2 separate regions of the Homo sapiens genome follow, and region 2 is linked to region 1. The links come from fine-mapping of genetic effects on gene expression. A gene starts in region 1. The other region holds a variant in brackets. All regions are shown on one strand. Distances are between the middles of the regions.

What was found. PIP is the estimated chance that this variant, and not a neighbour inherited with it, causes the effect. A credible set is the group of variants that fine-mapping cannot tell apart.
Region 2: its variant is the best candidate, but not a certain one, in a credible set for the expression of ZNF586 in whole blood (TOPMed, PIP 0.56).

Annotation. Positions count from the first base shown.
Region 1 is chr19:57,766,941-57,772,317 of GRCh38, reverse strand. ZNF586 (zinc finger protein 586) reads right to left here and starts at 2,642. Exons shown (of 3, transcript NM_017652.4): 1 at 2,440-2,642. The coding sequence starts at 2,475. RefSeq lists enhancers at 2,408-2,657, 2,379-2,918.
Region 2 is chr19:57,737,647-57,743,023 of GRCh38, reverse strand. No RefSeq gene overlaps it. Among named protein-coding and RNA genes, the nearest start is that of ZNF776, 6.5 kb to the left of the region's middle. The variant C/T (reference allele first, on the strand shown) is at 2,895.

The DNA.
Region 1 (5,377 bases):
GCAATTTGTATTTTTTTCCACGCAGAATGGCCAAAACAAACCTCCTGATAGCCTCAGTGAATATTACACCTGCTATCAACTTGCTCATCTCAGTTGATGCAGCTCCCATTGCTACAGCTGCTAAGATAAAAAACCCAGGGGTGTTTCCTGAATCCTCTCAAGCTCTCACTGTTCACATTTAAAAATTGAGTTGCCAGGCTGGGCACGGTGGCTCAAGCCTGTAATCCCAGCACTTTGGGAGGCCAAGGCGGGTGGATCACGAGGTCAGGAGTTCGAGGCAGCCTGGATAATATGGCGAAACCTAGTCTCTACTAAAAATACAAAAATTAGCTGGGTGTGGAGGCGCGCGCCTGTAATCCCAGCTACTTCGGAGGCTGAGGCAGGAGAATCGCTTGAACTCAGGAGGCGGAGGTTGCAGTGAGCCAAGATTCCACTATTGCACTCCAGCCTGGGCAACAGGTCCAGACTCCATCTTGGGAAAAAAAAAATTGACTTGCCCCTCTAAAAAACACAAATCCAGATCTAGCCACATTGCCTAAGCCACAACTCTAGTCCATTAATCCTCACCTCGACTAGGGCAGTAGCTTCCAGTTTGATCTTCCTCCTCCCTCAACCCCACAGTCTGTTGCCCACTCAGTAACCAGACAGCGCCTATTAAGAAATTGGTAACATCACCTCACCCCTCTAGTTTCACTTCTAAGTAAGTATTTGCACACCCCAGTATCAGTTCCTGGGTGAACCCTCCACATGTGTTACATTAGTTGACAGACATAGCAACAACTCCCCATAACCTATGTCACTGATGTAGGTTTGGGGTTTGAGGTTTTTCCAAGATCCCCAGATTGAAGGACCGGAGAAATGGCACTTAAGTGTCCTAGGAGGTGCGGTAGTTCCTGCTTGGCATCCCAGCACTTTGGGAAGCCGAAGCAAGAGGACTGCTTGAGCCCAAGGGTTCGAGACTAGCCTGGGCAACATGGCGAAACCCCATCTCTCTCTCTCTCTTTTTTTTTTTTTTTTCAGACGGAGTCTTTCTCTGTCGCCCAGGCTGGAGTGCAGTGGCGCGATCTCGGCTCACTGCAACCTCTGCCTCCCGGGTTCAAGCGATTCTCCTGCCTCAGCCTCCCAAGTAGTTGGGACTACAGGTGTGTGCCACCAGGCCTGGCTAATTTTTTGTATTTTTAGTAGAGGGGGGATTTCACCGTGTTAGCCAGGATGGTCTCAAACTCCTGACCTCGTGATCCGCCCGCCTCGGCCTCCCAAAGTGCTAGGATTACAGGCGTGAGCCACCGCGCCCGGCCGTGAAACCCCACCTCTACTAAAAATACAAAAAGCCAGTTACTCGGGAGACTGAGATGAGAGGCTCTCCTGAGCCCGGAGAGGTCGAGGCCGTGCTGCGCCGTGATCGCGTCACCGCAACCCAGCCTGGGTGTTGAGTGAGAACCCGTCGCCGAAAAAAAAAAAAGATGCCAAGATCTAGACATGTGGGATAGGATGAGGACCAGTGAAGGACTAGAGCATCCCCTACTTCCTACTGTGGATTCTGTAAGTGCTTCTGTAGCCATGAGGTGTGCCAAAAGGCAGGGCTTTCACAAATGTGTCTGTGCTCGGATTTGATAGACTCAGGCTTCTCTGTAAGCTTTTTTTGGCCCTGCAGCCAGATGACTTCAGACTGAGTCTCTAATCTTGTGGCCCAGTGCTCAATGTCACCTCTCAATGATTCAACCTCTCAATGTCCTCATCACTGCCTTCAACTCTGTTCTTCCTTCGAACATCTTTTGGGAATCGCAACTCTAACACAGATTTCCTCCTTTGTTCAAAACTGTCCATGGCTTTTAGCGTCCTCACAGTCAAAGTTCAACCCTCAGCCTGGTACTGAAGAAACAACTCCGCCTCGGCCAGGCGCGGTGGCTCACGCCTGTATTCCCAGCACTTTGGGAGGCCGAGGTGGGCGGATCACCTAAGGTCAGGAGTTCGAGGCCAGCCTAGCCAACATGGTGAAACCCCGTGGTGGCGCATGCCTGTAATCCCAGCTACTCGGGAGGCTGAGGCAGGAGAATCGCTTGAACCGGGGAGGTGGAGCTTGCAGTGAGCCGAGATCGCGCCACTGCACTCCAGCCTGGGCGACAGAGTGAGACTCCGTCTCAAAAAAAAAAAAAAAAAGAAATAACTCCGTATCACACTTCTTTCCCAGTAGACACACGATGTCCCCGTGTTCCGCATCCTCCTGCCTCAGTCGCGCCTGCAGGCCTTTGCCCTCCGCCAGTCTCGCTCTGCCGACCGCATCAACTGGGTGTCGGAAACAGGGATCCCACCCGCCGGCGCCTCTCCGTCCCTGACAGAGGCCTGGGCTGCAGGGACGCGAGGAGGCGGCCCTCACGATCAGGGGCCTCAGGGTCTGGGTGGGTAGGGTGGGTAAGGCCCGGAGGTCGCAGCGCTCACCTGAGCAGGCGCCCTCAGAGCGGCTGCTGCCGCCATGACTCTGGGCGGGGGGGGAACGCGGGCTCGGCGGTGTTCCTGTCGTTGTCCTGTCCCGGGTCGCGACCAGCGGCGTCGCCGAACCTCAGATCCGCCTGTGTGCAATGGCCACAACCACTCCTCCCGAGCTCGTCCAGACCCAGCATCGCCGGATGGACCTGACAGGCCAAAATGGCTGCCACGGCTAGGACGCCGGAAGTCCTGGCTTGACTTTACGTGCCCCGGCAATGGCACGGCTTCTCTGAAGCTTCATTGGCTCAGCCACGTTACCATTTCGCAGGGCGGATTCTGGGTAATGTAGTTCCCAGACATGGGCAGCGCTTAAGGTGGCTTTCTTCCGACTTTCCGAAGAAAGGGGCAAGCTCCACTGCGAGGGGCGCTAGGAAATGGCGACTCCAGGTCCAGATGCGGAGGAGGGTCTCCCATCTTAGAAGAGGCCATACGCACATTTCTGGGGGTACTGTGTGCAACTGATTGCCCGCGTGTTTGGAGACTTCTTATTTCAGAATTTGTGATGCTCGGCTTCTTCCTTTTTTTTTTTTTTTTGTCTTTTTTTTAAGACATAGTTCTCTCTGTCACTCAGGCTGGGGTGCAGTGGTGTGATCTTGGCTCACTGCAGCCTATGCCTCCCGGGTTCAAGCGATTCTCGTGCCTCAACCATCCGAGTAGCTGGGATTACAGGCGTGTGCCACCATACCCTGCTAATTTTTGTATTTTTAGTAGAGACGGGGTTTCCTCATTTTGGCCAGGCTGGTCTCGAACTTCTGGCCTCAAGTGATCTGCCTGCAATGGTCTACCGAAGTGCTAGGATTACAGGCGTGAACCACCGTTCTCAGCCCATTAGCAACACTTTTATTTATATCTTTAACCTACAGATTCCTCTAGAAATCTGATATCAACATCAAAAAGCTAATGAGACAAATGCTATTATGTTACAGGACAATGGCTGCGGTGTTCAAACATGGAGTATGTATGCATGAGAGAAGAGAGAGACCCTCTCACATTGTTTTATATTCAGTAAAAACAACAAGGAAGTAAAACCAAAGACAGGCAACCCCGCGCCAGGCCCGAAACCAGGCCTAGGCCCGCCTGGCCTAAACCCAGTAGTTAAAAATCAACTTATGATTTAGAAGCCGATGTTATTCATAGATTCCTTAGATTGTATAGAAGAACATTGTGAAACTCCCTGCCCTGTTCTGTTCCTCCCTGACCACCGGTGCATGCAGCCCCTGTCACATACCCCTTGCTTGCTCAAATCAATCACGACCCTTTCATGTGAAATCTTTAGTGTTGTGAGCCCTTAAAAGGGACAGAAATTGTGCACTCCGGGAGCTCAGATTTTGAGACAGTAGCTGGCCAATGCTCCCAGCTGAATAAAGCCCTTCCTTCTGCAACTCGGTGTCTGAGAGGTTTTGTCTGCGGCTCGTCCTGCTACATGCACAGGGTGCTTTTACACTGAGATATTTCAAGTGCCTTAAATCCATGCGTTCACCTCTTTGCTGGCAAGTGCTTATCATTGTCAGTGGCATTGGAATCAGAGTGACTCCATCTTGAAAATGGGCTGGATAAAGTAAGGCTGAGAAATACTCGGCTGCATTCCCAGGTTAGGCATTCTTAGTCACAGGATGAGATAGGAGGTTGGCACAAGATGCAGGTCACAAAGACCCTGCTGATAAAACAGGATGCAGTAAAGAAGCTGGCTAAAACGCACCAAAACCAAGATGGTGATGAAAGTGACCTGTGGTCATCCTCACTGCTCATTATACGCTAATTATAATGCATTAGCATACTAACTCCCGCCAGCGCCATGACAGTATACCAATGCCCTGGCAATGTTTGGAAGTTACCCTATATAGTCTAAAAAGGGGAGGGAACCTCAGTTCTGGGAAATCTCCACCTCTTTTTTTTTTTTTTTTTTTGAGATGGAGTCTCGCTCTGTCACCCAGGCTGGAGTGCATTGCTGCGATCTCGGCTCACTGCAACCTCCGCCTCTTGGCCAAGTTCAAGTGATTTTCCTGTCTCAGCCCCCCGAGCAGCTGGGATTATAGGCGCCTGCCACCGCGCCCAACCTGTAAAATTTTCTATACTTAAAAAAAAAGTTGGCTGGGCGCGGTGGCTCACACCTGTAATCCCAGCACTTTGGGAGGCCGAGGCGGGCGGATCACGAGGTCAGGAGATCGAGACCATCCTGGCTAATATGATGAAACCCCGTCTCTACTAAAAATACAAAAAAATTAGCTGGGCGTGGTGGCAGGCGCCTGTAGTCCCAGCTACTCCGGAGCCTGAGGCAGGAGAATGGCTTGAACCCGGGAGGCGGAGGTTGCAGTGAGCCGAGATCACGCCACTGCACTCCAGGCTGGGGGACAGAGCGAGACTCCGTCTCAAACAAACAAACAAACAAACAAACAAAAAAGTTGGCCGGGTGCGGTGGCTCATGCCTGTAATCCCAGGACTTTGGGAGGCAGAGGTGGGCGGATCACGAGGTCAGGAATTCGAGACCAGCCTCACCAACATAGTGAAACCCCGTCTCTACTGAAAATAGAAAAATTAGCTGGGTGTGGTGGCGCATGCCTGTAATCCCAGCTACTCAGGAGGCTGAGGCAGGAGAATCACTTGAACCCAGGAGGCGGAGGCTGCAGTGAGCCAAGATCGCGCCACTGCACTCCAGCCGGGGTGACAGAGGACAGAGTGAGGCTCCGTTTCAAAAAAAAAAAAAAAAAAAAGCTTTCTTGGATTATGCTTTGTATAAATTAAATTGGATATTTAGTGTAAACTTTATTCAGTAATGGAGGTGAGGGTTTCCAGTAGTATTTCTTTCCCCAAACAATCATTTTCTCAGATTTCCCGTGAGTTGGCTCATAAACATGTTGTACCATAAGAAATTGAAATCTCAAAGGCAAGA
Region 2 (5,377 bases), 29 kb after region 1:
TCTCAGCTTACTGCAACCTCCACCTCCTGGGTTCAAGCAATTCTCAGGGCTCAGCCTCCCAAGCAGCTGGGATTACAGTGCCATTACGCCCGGCTAATTTTTTTTTTTTTTTTTTCTTTGAGACGGAGTTTTGCTCTTGCTGCCCAGCGTGAAGTGCTATGGCACAATCCTGGCTCAACACAACCTCTGCCTCCCAGGTTCAAGCAATTCTCCTGCCTCAGCCTCCCGAGTAGATGGAATTATAGGCATGTGCCACCACGCCCGGCTAATTTGGTTGTGTGTGTTTTTTTTTTTTTTTTTTTTTTTTTAGTAGAGATAGGGTTTCTCCTGTCTCTACTAGAAAAAAAAAAGGGTCAGGCTGGTCTCCAACTCCCAACCTCAGGTGATCCATCCACCTCGGCTCTCCAAAGTGCAGGGATTACAGGCATGAGCCACCACATCTGACCGATTATCTATTCTTAAGTGTATTACTATGCTGTTTTACTTATAATCCTGATATCTCTCATTTTTGTTATTTTTGAGACGGAGTTTCTTGCTCTTGTTGTCAGGCTGGAGTGCAATAGCACCATGTCAGCTCACTGCAACCTCTGCCTCCTGGATTCAAGTGATTCTCCTGCCTCAGCCTCCCTAGTAGCTGGCTAACTTTGTATTTTTAGTAGAGACAGGGCTTCTCCATGTTGGTCAGGCTGGTCTCAAACTCCTGATCTCAGGTGATCCACCTGCCTCAGCCTCCCAATGTTCTGGGATTACAGGCATGAGCCACCATGCCTGGCCTCTAAATGTTATCTTGTATGACAGCATGATATATAGGCACATAAAAGCAAGATGCTTTAGAAATGTAAATAAAAGATTATAAATTACAAATGGCAATGTAATCAGGGATGTAAAGAATCTCAATACCTAAATGTTACCTTGCATGACAGCAAGTTATATAGGCATATTTCATCTTCACTATCAGTAATATTTTGCTTTCTTCTTTCTAGAAATATCTGTGATGATTCTTAATCAACATAGGACTCTACAGTAATGTCTAGAAGTTTAAAATTGTGTGTTCCAATTATATTATGACTACACACACTGGAAGGTATATTTCTATCTATTGTGGAGTAAAATTTTCTTGATTATACCCTGCTTATGCTCCCACTAAACCTTTGTAATCAGCAAATTTAAAAGCCCAAGTCTCTGAGTAGCATTTGTGCTTCTGTGTGGCCAGTATGACCCCACCTCCATTCTGTCTAACAGCCCCTTGGGGTTCTGAATATGCTGGTTGTGTGGATCACATCTCTCCCTCTTGGGTTTGTTGTCAGTGTGGTATATATTTATGTCGGCTCAGGCTGTCAATAGGTGCCAGTACCCAATGCCTCTTACACAGAGTCCTATAGGTATAACAGGGGCACCTCTAGGATGGACTGAGATTTTTTTTTTTTTTTTTGAGACAGGGTCACTCTTTTCCCCAGACTGGACTGTGGTGGCATGATCTTGGCTCACTGCAACCTCCGCCTCCCTGGTTCAAGCAACTCTCCTGTATCAGCCTCCCGCATAGCTCGGACTACAGGTGAGCGCAACCCATGGCTAATTTTTGTATTTTTAGTAAAGACAGGATTTCTCCATGTTGGCCAGGCTGGTCTCAAACTCTTGACCTCGTGATCCACCCACCTCGGCCTCCCAAAGCGTTGGGATTACAGGCGTGAGCCACCGTGCCCTGCCGGACTGAGGTCTTTAAATACTGCACACCTGTCACACAGGGTCCCTGGGATATGTGTTTTGTCTATAGGCTGTGCTGCAGTATAACCCTCAGGCACTTGTCACACACCAGGAGCATACACTCTTTGAAATTTTTGCTTCCAGACTGTACCACAGCATGCTGGGAGAATGTAATCCAACTGTGTGTTTCTGGCTGTGTCATAATCACACACTTATGTGGGACTACCCCTGAATCACCCATTTCAAGAATATCTAGTTTGCTTATGGCTTATACATGTGTAAACAACTTAAATCATATCAGAGATATGCACAAAAAATTAGAGTATAATAAATTCTAATACAAAAATTACACAATTTCAAGAAATAAATAAAATTTTGGCCAGGCGCGGTGGCTCACGCCTCTAATCCCAGCACTTTTGGAGGCCAAGACGGGTGGATCATGAGGTCAGGAGTTCAAGACCAGCCTGGCCAAGATGGTGAAACCCCGTCTCTACTAAAAATACAAAAATTAGCCGGGCGTGGTGGTGGGCGCCTGTAATCCCAGCTACTTGGGAGGCTGTGGCAGAGAACTGCTTAAACCTGAGAGGCGGAGGTTGCAGTGAGCCAAGATTGCACCATTGCACTCCAGCCTGGGTGACAGAGAGAGACTCCGTCTCAAAAAAAATAAAAAAATAAAATAAAATTTAAGGCCAGGCATTGTGGTTATGTATGTAATCCCAGCACTTTGGGAGGCCAAAGCAGGTGGATTGCTTGAGCCCAGGAGTCTGAGACCAGCCTGGGCAACATTGTGAAACCCAGTCTCTACAAAAAATAAAAAATAAAAGCTTAGCCAGGCATGGTGGTGCTTGCCTGTAGTCCCAGCTACTTGGGAGGCAGAGGTGGGAGGATCACCTAGCCCAGGGAGGTCCAGGCTGCAGTTAGCTGTAATTGTGTCACAGCACTCCAGCCTGGGTGACAGAGTAAGACCCTGTCCCACACCCCGCACAAAAAAGGAATTTTAAAAAGGAAAGTCATACCTGTAGATTAATAGAGATATATGAGACAGAACTACTAAAAGTCATGGGGATAAATTTGGGAATTTCTTTCTTTTTTTTTTTTAATTTTTGTATTTAGTAGAGACAGAGTTTCACCATGTTGGCCAGGCTGGTCTCAAAATCCCAACCTCAGATGATCCACCCGCCTCAGCCTCC[C/T]AAAGTGCTGGGACCACAGGCGTGAGCCACCACGCCCACATTTGGGAATTTCATTGCAATGAAGCTGCTTAAAGAACAAAGATATTTTTGAGACAATAGAAAAAATGGACGATGATAACATATTTTGTTATGCTTTAAACATTTCTGATGGAACCAGTTGTAGGTGTTATGAAAGAGCCCTTGGACTTTGGAAATACCCTGTGAAGAGATTATGCATTAAGCGATGTCAGGAAGCTGGGCGCTGTGGCTCATGCCTGTAATCTCAGCACTTTGGGAGGCCGAGGTGGGTGGATCACCAGAGGTCAGGAGTTCTAGACCAGCATGACCAACATGGTGAAACCTTGTCTCTACTAAAAATACAAAAATTCACTGGGCGTAGTGGCAGGTGCCTGTAATTCCAGCTACTAGAGAGGTGGAGGCAGGAGAATCACTTGACATGCTGGGATTACAGGCGTGAGCCACCACGCCTGGCCTAGATTCTTTACATATCTGATTACCTTACTATTTCCAATTTACAATCTTTTATTCATGTTTCTGAAGTGTCTTTCCTTTCACTAATGGGAGAGGAAGTATTAACTCTTTCACTCATCAAACACAAGTTAGTAAAATACCAGAGACTCAATTTGCAAATCATGCCCCCAAAAAGACAAAAATGCATAACCAAAAAATGTTATAAAGACACTAAATGGCCACTCAAATACTTTAAACAGTCTTCTTCATTTCCCACTGGTAAAGATCTTACAGTGGACTTTGTGAGGCTTAATATTTTCAGTCAGTAATGGAAGGAAGAATATTCAAAGAAGGTTTCAGAGGAAATATAGAGGAGAGGCATAAGGCAAGGAGAGGAGGTTGCACCATGTCTCCAGGTCCCTCAGAGTATGTCTCAACCTCAGAGCAGAACTGGTTCCTTCTGATTGTAACACTCTGTAGGGACCAGCCCCACAGGGTCGGTGGGTCTCTCCCTGTGTGCGGTGACGAGAGAGTGTAGAAATAAAGACACAAGACAAAGAGATAAGAGAAAAGGCAGCTGGGCCCGGGGGACCACTACCACCAATGCGCGGAGACTGGTAGTGGCCCTGAATGTCTAGCTGCACTGTTATTTATTGGATACAAAGCAAAAGAGGCAGGGCAAAGAGTGTGAGTCATCTCCAATGATAGGTAAGGTCATGTGGGTCATGTGTCCACTGGACGCGGGGCCCTTCTCTGCCTGGCAGCCAAGGCAGAGAGAGAGAGGGAGAGAGAGAGACAGCTTACACCATTATTTCTGCATATCAGAGACTTTTAGTACTTTCACTAATTTTGCTACTGTTATCTAGAAGGCAGAGCCAGGTGTACAGGATGGAACATGAAGGTGGACTAGGAGCGTGACCACTGAAGCACAGCATCACAGGGAGATGGTTAGGCCTCCGGATAACTGCGGGTGGGCCTGACTGATGTCAGGCCCTCCACAAGAGACGGAGGAGCAGAGTCTTCTCTAAACTCCCCCCGGGGAAAAGGGAGACTCCCTTTCCCGGTCCGCTAAGTAGCGGTTGTTTTTCCTTGACACTAAGGCTACCGCTAGACCAGACTTCCCAGATGCTGGCATCACCGCTAGACCAAGGAGCCCTCTGGTGGCCCTGTCTGGACATAACAGAAGGCTCGCACTCTTGTCTTCTGGTCACTTCTCACTGTGTCCCCTCAGCTCCTATCTCTGTATGGCCTGGTTTTTTCTAGGTTATGATTATAGAGCGAGTATTATTATAATACTGGAATAAAGAGTAATTGCTACAAACTAATGATTAATGATATTCATATATAATTACATCTATGATCTAGATCTAGTATAACTCTTGTTGTTTTATATATTTTATTATACTGGAATGGCTCATGCCCTCGGTCTCTTGCCTCAGCACCTGGGTAGCTTGCTGCCCACAACACTCACCTGGGAATAGTTGGTATTTACTAATTCACATTTACAAAACCGTGGCTGGAGTGTCAGCATTCCTGCCATGGGGAAAGTGGATATTTGAACCCTGAGAAAAGATTCTGGGTACAATAATCTCACCTTCTTGCTGGGAAGGAACTATCATTTCAGCAGTAAGTACAATGATAGTTTCGGCATGGGGACTGGAGATTACCTCTGGAAAACAGCTTGGACTGAGAAAATTAGTTAATATTGTGGATAAATGAAGTTACCACTGAGAATGACATAAGTAGCTAGAAAAGTTTCTGTGAAGTCTGAGAACACATAAATCTCAATGGATAGTGAGCAGAGGACATGGGGCTGTAAGTTCTGAGATAATTAAGTGGAGCCCATGGCTATCCTAGAGACTTGACTAACATGAAATTCTTATTTCTACAAAGTGTGTATTATTTCAATTTCTGAGAACTCAGGAAAAACCAACTGAGAGCCAAGGAAATAGTAAGGTAAGACTAGAAAGATGTCATAGAACAGAAAGAAAGCGATGGTGGCATCATATTGATTCAATGTCTTGGAATCTGCA